Linked DNA regions of Homo sapiens: region 2 is linked to region 1. Evidence: fine-mapped expression QTL. A gene starts in region 1. The other region holds a variant in brackets. All regions are shown on one strand. Distances are from middle to middle.

Evidence for each region. PIP is the estimated chance that this variant, and not a neighbour inherited with it, causes the effect. A credible set is the group of variants that fine-mapping cannot tell apart.
Region 2: its variant is the best candidate, but not a certain one, in a credible set for the expression of TGM3 in whole blood (TOPMed, PIP 0.50).

The regions. Positions count from the first base shown.
Region 1 is chr20:2,292,466-2,297,994 of GRCh38, forward strand. It overlaps TGM3 (transglutaminase 3), which reads left to right and starts at 3,536. Exons shown (of 13, transcript NM_003245.4): 1 at 3,536-3,605. The coding sequence starts at 3,599. LOC105372503 (a long non-coding RNA gene) reads right to left here. Exons shown (of 3, transcript XR_937203.3): 2 at 4,727-4,825; 3 at 3,356-4,029. RefSeq lists enhancers at 4,240-4,773, 4,774-5,306.
Region 2 is chr20:2,318,009-2,323,008 of GRCh38, forward strand. All of the region lies in intron 7 of TGM3 (transglutaminase 3), which reads left to right. Among named protein-coding and RNA genes, the nearest start is that of TGM3, 25 kb to the left of the region's middle. The variant C/T (reference allele first, on the strand shown) is at 2,701.

The DNA of each region.
Region 1 (5,529 bases):
AATCGCTTGAACCCAGGAGGCGAAGGTTGCAGTGAGCTGAGACTGTGCCATTGCACTCCAGCCTGGTCAAGAAGAGTGAAACTCCCATCTCAAAAAAAAAAAAAAATCCCCCATCTTAGGAGTTGTCAAGAGACATGTGTCGTGCTGGAAAGGGCTGGATGATTTCTCAGAAGATTCTCTGTCTCTACACATGTTGTGAAATCTTCAGCAACCCTAAATCCCTTAATTAGAGGGAGAGAAAAGGCAAGTGATCAATTGGCTTCTTTTAAAAGCCCATATCTGCATGCTTCGTCTTCACTGCGGTCTGAGGCGCAGAGTGTGGCCAAGCAGGAATTTCATCCTGTGTGTAGCTGGGTGGCTCCACCTATGAATTGAAAATCATTTAGCTGAAATTGTGACACAGCTGCAAATTACAGTCTGCCTGCAGGCTGGGGCTGTGGCTGCGGCCATGGTGCAATCCTCCAGTACCCAACATTAAGTAACTCAGGGCAGACTCTTACTGGGGCCCTACTGCTGGTCAGTTGCAAAGACTACAGGCAGCTTGGCTGGAGGAGCTGTGGAGGGTAGAAGGGAAGCTGGCTGTGTAACACTAGCCTGTCTACAGAGGAGCATCATACCCGCAATGTCACCATGGCTTTCAGCCTCATGACAGCCCTGGAAGGTGTGTGCATCATGCTGATGAGGATACCGAGGGCCAAAGAAGTAAAAGAATTCAGCCAACATCACACAGTGGACAAGTTCCAAAGCCTGGCTTTGAATCCAGGTCTTTTGACTCCAACTCAGGGGTCTTTTTACTACATTACTCTGGGATCAAGACCAGCTACAGACCCTCCTAGAGAAGACCAGGTGGTCAGTGGTCGGACACCACTGTCCAAACCCGTGGGACCCCTTGCAAAACCTGTGGCACTCGGGGCCTTTCAGGCTAATAATATGATTTTTTTTTTTTTTTTGAGACAAGGTCTCACTCTGCCACCCAGGCTGGAGTGCAGTGGTGCGATTTCGGCTCACTGCAACCTCCACCTCCCGGATTCAAGTGATTCTCGTGCCTCAGACTCCCGAGTAGCTAGGATTATAGGCACGCACCATCATGCCTGGCTAATTTTTGTATTTTTAGTACAGACAGGGTTTTACCATGTTCCCCAGGCTGGTCTCAAACTCCTGACCTCAAGGTCCCACCTCGGCCTCCCAAAGTGCTGGGATTACAGAAGCGAGCCACCGCACCCGGCCAGGCTAATAATATAATATTATTAATACTAACTTTTTACACTGGGCTGTGCCCAGCGCCGTGCTGAACCTTTTACACTTGCTGTCTCCTTTGATTCTCAGAGCAATTCCACTCAGTTTTACAGTTGAGGAAACAAAGCCTACGAGAGGTGAGGAGACTTGGCAGAGCCAAGACTGTGTGTCTTCAGGTTCCCTTTTAAGGGGAGCACCACCTCCCTGTCACCTCTGCAGCTTTCCTTGTCAGGTCATTGAAAGGAGTGCCCGGGGTCTGATTTTCCTTGGCTCCCAGGCCAACAGCAACAACCACAATAATAAGCAAAACCCCTCCTTTCCTTTAGACCACACACAGAAGCATACAGAGCACTTTCACACCCATTCATCCCATGCCATTCATGGAGCTGTCCTCCAGCTTTCTGGCAGGATGAACTTGGCGTCATGAGGCCTCGCCCAGAGTCACAGCTAGTGCCCGTGGTAGGAGCCAAGACCACACATGAGTCTCCTCTTGGGTCCAGGCTCTTTCCATGTCCCTCTCTACCCTCTGCTCTTTTCTTAGTCATCTGCCAGAGCCAACAGTGCATCCCATTCTGCCTGGCATGGGTGCACAGCCAGCTGTCTTAGAGCCCCAGAGGCCTGGGAAAGGCTGCCTCATTTAGGCGCTGACCTCCAAGGTTAAGCAAACACAGGCTCTGGAGCCATTTACATATGGGTATGAATCTCGTGGTTGGAGACTCAGGTTAATCTCTCTGTCCCCCATAAGATGGAAATAATAATAGCCCCTTTGCATAGGGTTGCTATGAAGATGAGAAAAGCTAATATATGTAAAGTGTTTAGCCAGTGCCTGCCCACAGTAAACACTAAATCAATTAGTTATTATTAGTAAGCACTAAATCGGTAGTTATGATTCCCATCTTTACAGTGATATTGATTCACTTATTCAAGAATGTGCATGTTCCAGCCACGTGTCAAGCCCTGTGCTAGATTCTGAGAAGAAGATTTGAATGATATGCAACCTGTACCTTCAAGGAGCTCAGTCTGGAGATGGGGACATATATAAACAGATAGTTCCAGTGCAGTGGATACATACGGTAATAGAGGTTCTAAGATGTACAAAAGGCTGTAGGGGCCTAAAGGACGGAGAAAGGACACTGATTTCTCTTTTTCAATTTTCCAAGCCACCTGCCTATTCCGTCTTCTCTTTCTCGAGATCAAACATTCTCACTTCTCTCTAAAGACCCAACCTTGTCATCATGGTGCTCAATCTTCCTTCCACACTGTGATGCTGGGGAAAGCCTTGGGGCATTTCTGTTCTCTCGTGAATCCTTGAAGCCTCACTTTAAAAAATATATACTCACTCCTTTGTCCATCGTAAACCTTGATATTTGTAAATATCGATAATAGGAACTTTGAAAAAACATACGCCCTTAGAAACAAGCAAGCAAACAAAAACACGTAGAATGTCAGAGCTTCTCCCCACTCCACACCCTTTCTTTAAACTGATGTCAAGGTGGGCCCAGTGAGGGTCAGTGACGGAACCTGCAGTCTGAGAAAGACATGGCAGAAGCATAAGGTTAGAGGCTGTTCCTGCTGCCTCATTAAAAACAACAATTTTCCCCCAAATCTGGACTGAAACTGACATTCAACGCCAAGTGTGATCTCAGTTTAACCTGCCCTGGTAGATATGCATACACTTCCCATGCGCACCATCTCATGTGATCGTGTCCACAGCTTTGTGAGTTGAGAGGGGTGGGAGTGATTATCCCCAACCACAAGCAAGGCTTCCGGGCTTCAAGGGTTGGAGACCACCCAGGGCTCGGCCAGCATCAGAACCAACGGCTTCTAATTCCAAATCAAATGATGGTTTATGCCACACTACAACCCTAAACAAATGAACTGTGATGTGTCTCACTTCCCTGTGCAAGTGGAAGATGCTAATACATGTGTATCATGAGAAAGGACCTCACAATTTTCTTCTTCTGGGTTCTGCTGAGACGTTTCTTTGATTCAGAGAGAACTTCCCAGGATCAGCAAGAAAAGCATGTCATCATTTCCTAAACCCTACAATCCAGGAAATAGTCCATCATTTTATAAAATTATAAAAGCGAACTATTTGAGTTTCTTTATTATCTGCCCCCTTCTCCCCAAGCTGGTCTTGTACAAACATGATGCACGTCCATTGGGTGACAAGTCTGTCGTAAGTGAAACGTTTACAGGCACTACAGGAATGACCTGGTGCCTCGCCCACTTCATTAGAATTCTAATTGGGGTGTGTAGGAGAGGATTCTATAAATGGTAAGGCAATCCTTGGCAGCCTGTCTGTCAGCACTGTCCGTGCCATTCCCAGAGGAGCCTGAGAAGAGGCAGAGGAAGGCGAAACATGGCTGGTGAGTGCATGGCATCTTCTCCATCAGGTCCTTGCCAGAAGCCTGTGCTTCCCCTGGGCCAGCCTGCCAAGCCAGAGTGTCCGGCCAGGACAGCTGCCTGCCTTGGGGGCTCTGAAGGCCAGACTTCCTATTTTAGGGTGCTAGCCAGAGGCGGCTCTTTCTCAGTGGTGGTTGGGTCCCTCTAGCATATTCTTGGGGTAGAACATCATTGGAATGTAGCTCTGAATAATGGGCAGGGTGTTCAGTGCAGCTGGACATCGCATCTCCTTAGGCAGAGGACAAGCTTTGCCTTGTTTGTGTTTGCGTTTCTTTTACACATCCGTCGCCACCCGTAAAGCCAAAGCAGACAGGACTCGGGTCTCGTGTTTCTCAGTGTAGCTGTATCCAGCTGTCAGCAGTGTCAGCAAAGAAGCACATCTCAGAACTACCAGGGAGTGAGAGTGGTAACATGTAAGTTGATTTGAAAGAAACCATTGTTTATTTCAAATCAACTTACTTAGGAGCATTAGGAATGCTCCTAAGTAAGCTACACATCAGAAGCATCAGACAGGCTCTGTGTAAGTGACTTGATGAGCTGAAGCCTCCCCGTAGCAGGAGCAGGTGTGCCACAAGATGTCCTGGTCCACAGGAGAGCACCAGGGAACAGGGGTTACAAAGAACAACAGGAAGTGCAGGTTCCCCCACTCTATGCTTACTGTCGAGGATATGGGCCTTTGTTAATCAGCACCCCTGCTAAGCAGCATGCTAATTATTATCTGTCTTGTGTGCTCAGCCTAGTAGGTTGACAGGGACGCCAAATCCAAACAAGATATGAGTCAAACTTGTAAAATATTGTGAATGGCGATTAGGGCTGCTGGAAGATTGGCCAAAGACATCACTGAGCCAAATGCAACAGGCAAATGCTGGCTACTTCAGAAGCCACAAAAACTGGGACAGGTGATTGCACATTAGGCCCCCTCCCCTGTCTCCCATTCCTTGCTGTAATGTACAGCATGGCTGGGATGCTAAGAAGAGGAGCTCTGGACCCTACACACTGCAGCAAGAGGGGAGGTCAGATGTCATCTAGCCCATCTCCCTCCCTCCAGGAGGTGGCTGAGGCCCAGGAAGGGGTGGAACCTTACACACAGTGAATCCATCGCAGAGCCAGCTAGGTCTCAGCAGTGCCCTTTCCACCATGTCCTGCTGCCAGAGCTGAGCTCCTACATAAGTGCACATAACATCTGGAACATAAAAAAGCAATTCTGAACCTGGCTTCTCATTTGAGCTTTGTGACCAACTGCTTGTGTGTTCTCTGCCACCCCTGAGCCTCAAGTTTTCAAGATGAAAGCTTTGAAATGAATGCGTTTTGAGGTTCCTTCCAGTACCGACTTTTCTTTCTCCACAAAAAGAAACCAGAGCCAGGGAGTGGACAGGCACGTGCCCAGCCCCCAGGAATGTGCACCTCCCATCCCTGTGCAGGACCTCCCGTGGACTCTCAGGAATGGCCTGCCCGCTGTGAGGCATGATTAAATGTCTCTGTTAACAACCAGAGATGTTCTAAAGTCACAACAGAATGAGGCTGGTGGGGAGAAAATCAATTTTGAAAAGGTGGTGGAGAGACAGGCGAATACATTCAGTCCCTTAAATTTGTCCCACTTGCAGTTCCCAGCTCAGCTCCGAGTCACTCAGCCAGGAAGTTCCCAATCAGTGTTTCTTGGATGAATGAATTTATTCACTGAACACCTAAGGGAGAAGAGCTGTGCCAGGTGCAGTGGGAAATATGGAGGTGAATGAGATGTGGTTCTGTCCTCGGTAGCTTTTAGTCTGATATTTTTTGGTACCACCGGTTTTTTAGGTGAGCAGCATGCAAGGCAGACTGTTATTAAGCTGCATGACAAATACAAAACAAGTGCTACGGGGACCAACAAGAGAAGGAGATTAGTCT
Region 2 (5,000 bases), 25 kb after region 1:
GATTCCGGATGAAAACAATTATTTTTTTGAGATGGAGTTTCATTCTTGTTGCCCAGGCTGGAGTGCAATGGTACAATCTTGGCTCACTGCAACCTCAGGCTCCCAGGTTCAAGTGATTCTCCTGCCTCAGCCTCCCAAGTAGCTGAGATTACAGGCATGCACCACCATGCCCGGCTAATTTTTGTATTTTAGTAGAGACAGGCTTTCACCATGTTGGTCAGGCTGGTCTTGAACTCCTGACCTCAGGCCATCCACCTGCCTCAGCTTCCCAAAGTGCTGGGATTACAGGCGTAAGCCACTGCACCCGGCCAAAATGTTTTATATATATTTGGGCATTTATATTCCTAACCATAAGTATGCCATGTGCACACTATCAATACACACACACACGTAATTTAATGATAGATGCCACTGGAAGTAGGAAATGTGTAGACATATATCTGTAACTGCATAGAGCACTAGATAGATAGATATTATATAGATAAAAATAGACATTGTTACAACTGTTTAAGGTTATATCATATACCAAGTTATTACCGGATGGCAATTGGCAATGATGTCTATATCTGTAGATACACAGAGATATCTATGTATCTATATAAAGTACCCATCTATCTATTGTTTTAATCCATTTCAAAGGCTACACACACACATAATTGCTCACATGCATGTATGTGGCTAGATAATCGTATGACAGATGTAATCTTATTTTCAGATGTTCAATTTTGAGATAGTCTACATAAAATGTTTGTATTACTTATCATTCCCAGAATAAGTATATCTAACTTATCTGAAATGTGCTTAATGTAACTAAGGGTATAAAATGAAACGAAAATAGATAATAATGGAAAACACTGTTAAAACAAATAAATAACAACTCCATGCCAGCAACCGAGTTGAGTAATAAAAGCATCCCTTCCCTTCTGAAGGAGAGTGAGGTTTATGTAACTCACCCCAGAGTCAATGGATTCTGGGGTTTTACTAGGGGAGAGAAAGCTTATTTAAGGAGTTTCTTTCTTGATCTGCACATACACAACTTTCTCTCTAATGATATTGCTTACTTGTGGCCAGACTTTGTTTTCCAACTTCTCATGAATGAGTGTCTTCTTTTCCCTGGGCTTTTCTTTGTTCTTGTGTCCAAAATCCCATCGCAACCAGCTCTGATCACTGGGGCTATGCCATTCCTAACTTTAGTTTCTTCTACAAAAGGAGATGGTTGGTGAGACAAGTTGGGGGTCCCCTCGGCATACCCTTTCTGTGATTATCCTGTACATTAGGAACTGCAGGGACGTGGAAAGCTTAAGTCTCAGTTCCTCCACTGAAAGCATTTTTATGGTGCTGTTAGGAGGCACGGGGTGGGGAGGCCACTAGTAGAGGCTAATTAGCAACACAGCATGGTGTGTGATGCCCAGGCAAGTGACTGAGACAGGGATACCAGGAACTCGGAGGAAATCCTCAAGGAAGGCGTCCTGGAAACAGGAAAGTGAGGCTTTTAAGCTAAATTTAGAATTAGAACCCAGGTCTCCTGGTTAGTGATTCACACTGCCCCCCACATCAGCTTAACATCACCTTTGGGACAAGTAGGAGCTGATGGAGACATTCCAGGGTGGCTCTGTGGTCATTTCTGTGGCCTCATGGGAGGGGGCCAGGCGCAGAAGCTCTGACTGTTCCTGAGGATCTTGTCACCCCTCCCTTCCTCTCCCCTTTTCTGAACCTTCTCAGAAAGCCAAGGGAGCTGATAGTTACTCCCTACACCATTCCCTACAGCTGATGGTTGGGGGAGCCAGCCCTGGAGGGCATGAGGACAGGGAGTCCCAAGCACTAGCTCCAGCCCTACCACCCAATTGCTGTGAGGCTTGCGCAAGGCAATTTATCCTCCTGGTCCCAAGTTTCTTCATATGTGAAATATAAGGGTTGGCCTAGGACTAGATGATTTCTTAAGTCCTTTGCCAGCTTAAATGTTTAAATTCTCGGGAGCTTCAGCCCACTCCACTTTCTATAAGGGAGCTAGCCCTCCCAAGGGAGCCCTGCTGTTCCTTCCTCCTTGAATCCCATGCAGGGGAGAGCTAAACCAAGAGCCAGTTTCTGCCTGGCGTGAAATTACTAAGCTATTCTTATAAGGGCAACCGGAGTTTGGACAGAAAACCTCTGACATGAATCTTTGTATGTTACCAAAAAGTGTTGAAAGCTTTAGAACCGTGCCCAGATTTGCCTAAAGTAATAGAATGTGAGAATCAAGGGAGATTAAGCATTAGAAGTGCTTAGTAATAGTAACAGCAGCAACTAATAATTTGTTGAGCAGTTGTTGTGTGCCAGGTACTGTTATAAGTGCTTAGATTTCATCTTCACAAATGACGTAGGCATTGTTATTTTCATCCCCAATTTATTTTTCATGGATGAGAAAACAAAGGCCCCGAGAGAAGTAACTTGTCTAAGGGTAAACACCGGGAGACATGTAGACATTCTAAGCGCATAACATTATGTAAGTTCCTTGCCTTTGCTACACCTCAATTTCCCACTTGTAAAACAAAGGGCCAGATCAGGGGACCTCAGTGACATTTTCTAGGCCTTTCTTTTAATCAGATTCACAGCAGCCAGTGGGGTAAATTTTTTTCTAAGCCACTCTGCTCGTGCCAATGGTTTGGCTTAAGAGTCACGCAGTTCCGGAGTATTCACTCTCTTCAGAGTGAGGACACTTTT[C/T]GGGGGAGCTTAGTTTGGGATGCTTCTTTGAGATGTCCTCCTTCGGGTCCACTGCAAAGGAAGTCTCTGGAGCCTATTCAGCCACCGAGCAGCAGCCGAATGATTTGGAACAGTTTAGCCAAAGTTATCTTGACTTTTCTGGCTTGTTTTCTTCATTCATTTGGCTTGATCCCCCAATTTCTAGAGTCATAGATCTGACTCTACCTGTAGACTTTGCAGAACTCTGAGGTAGAAGGTGCCTAGAGACTGCCCAGCCCTGCCAGGGAGGTGAAGTCAGGCAGTGCCTCCAGCTGTCAGCACCCACACCTCAGCCAAGCCCCTGGCTCCTCATGCAATCTCTCCACGGCCTCTGCCTCTGAATACCTGCTTCCACTAATCCTGAACTGGCTCCTAGGCCCTTAGTGAGGAAGTGACAGAGAGTGGTTTCAGCCCAGAAACAACTCAATTCAGCAAACATGATTCCATGCACATCTGCACTGGACTCCGGGCACCAAGAGGAACAAGATGCAGGAACTGTGCTGGAGGAGGGTTTTTGTTTGTTTGTTTTGTTTTATAACTAGGCCTTAGAGACTGAATAGACGAGTTTACAGCTGCATTAAAAGCTTGGCAATTATGGAGTAGCAATGAAATCAATGAATTATTTGCAAGAGTCAGAGACAGCACAGAGGTATTATTGGCACTCTCTTGGCGTGTCAGGAAAGGCTTTTTTGGCAGAGGTAGTATCTGAACAAACTTTGGGAGGACAAATGGGAGTTTACCTACAGAAGGGCAGGGTTTGGGGCCACTTTCTAGGCAAGGTCTCCTAACTCTGTGATTTCAAAGGTAAGCATAGCTCAGTTGGTGTCTGTAGAGCAGTGTTTTATAAACGTCAAAGACTGCATGAGAATTAATTTGTGTGGGGAAAGATGAGAGCAGCGGAAATCTGCACTTTTTAATAAATGCCTTGGATAGTTCTGATGCCCGCAGCCTGTCCTCTCCTGAGCTTATGCTCCTGAAACCCTCAGGAAAGGAGTGGAGCCCGAGGTTGGGGGGTGGGAGACAGCGTGGCACACAACCAGAAACCCACACCGGAATTTCCACATGGCGCCACTGGGCATTGGAAAGATGCACATCCCAAATATTTCTGTGTAACTGAAGTGGCTGGCTTTTGCATGAGGGAGGAACCAGGATGCAGTTGTTATCTGCTCTGCCTTAAATTCCTGCCTTGCAAGCAAGTATTAAAATACAGCTACTTATCAATTTTTTTTTTTTAACCAGCCTGCCCTTCCCCTTGGGTGCTCTGCCAGGAGCAAATTGAGTGTGAAACTTGGTGTCCTTATTCACTTTCTCATCCCTCCCTTGCTCCTCTCACCCACCTGGGACCATCTTCCCACACTCCTTCCCTTGCCTTCTCCTTGGTGAGTTCTAACCGATCATGAAGGCCTGTTCAAAAAGACTCCCTGGATCCTGGAGATCATTTTTATGATGCCCTTTTAAAAATAATTATAAAAAAATTCAAAATACATACAGAAATAAAAATCATTTCTGATCTTATTCACATATCTTCAACACTTGGTAGTTTTCCATTCATCTTTTCTCTCTGAGTTATTGTTATTTACAGAATTGGGATGATACATTTTCCAAGGCATGAGTAGAAGACGGAGCATATAATAGACACATCCCACTTTTTCCCACACCTCGAAACCAATCACTTCACCATTAGTTTTAGTCATGTGTTTTTTACTAAACATTATATCATGAGCATTCTCCCTATGTCATTAAAAAATCTTCAAAAATAAGATCATTTCAAATACGTCGTAAGTGCATCATATTCTCTTATATGGAATGGAACCTATGTAAAGTCAGGTTACATAAAATGGAATCTACTGTTAACCTGTTTCCCTTTTTTAACCCCAGCTGCCTGGATTCAAATCCCACTCTGCTTAATTACTCACTGTAAGACCTTCTCAAGTCACTTAACTTCCCTGAACCTCAGTTTCCAGAGTTGTTGAATGGGGAATAATAATCATTTCTGTCTTTTAGGGTGTTGTAAGGATTAAATAAGTTAATATATGCAATAACACAGGACTCAACTTTCTGTGTTAACACTGTGTTAGCTATGATCATCCAACTTACATATATTTTCTAATTATAGAAGTAATGAGTAATTGACATGATAGAAAATAAAAACATTATAGAAATAAGTAACATAAAACTTAGTTTGTATGCACTATATATATAACACATACACCAAACTGTTAATGGTGGATATCTAAGAAAATAGAATTATTGTAGACTTTCTCCAATGTTTTATGTATAAT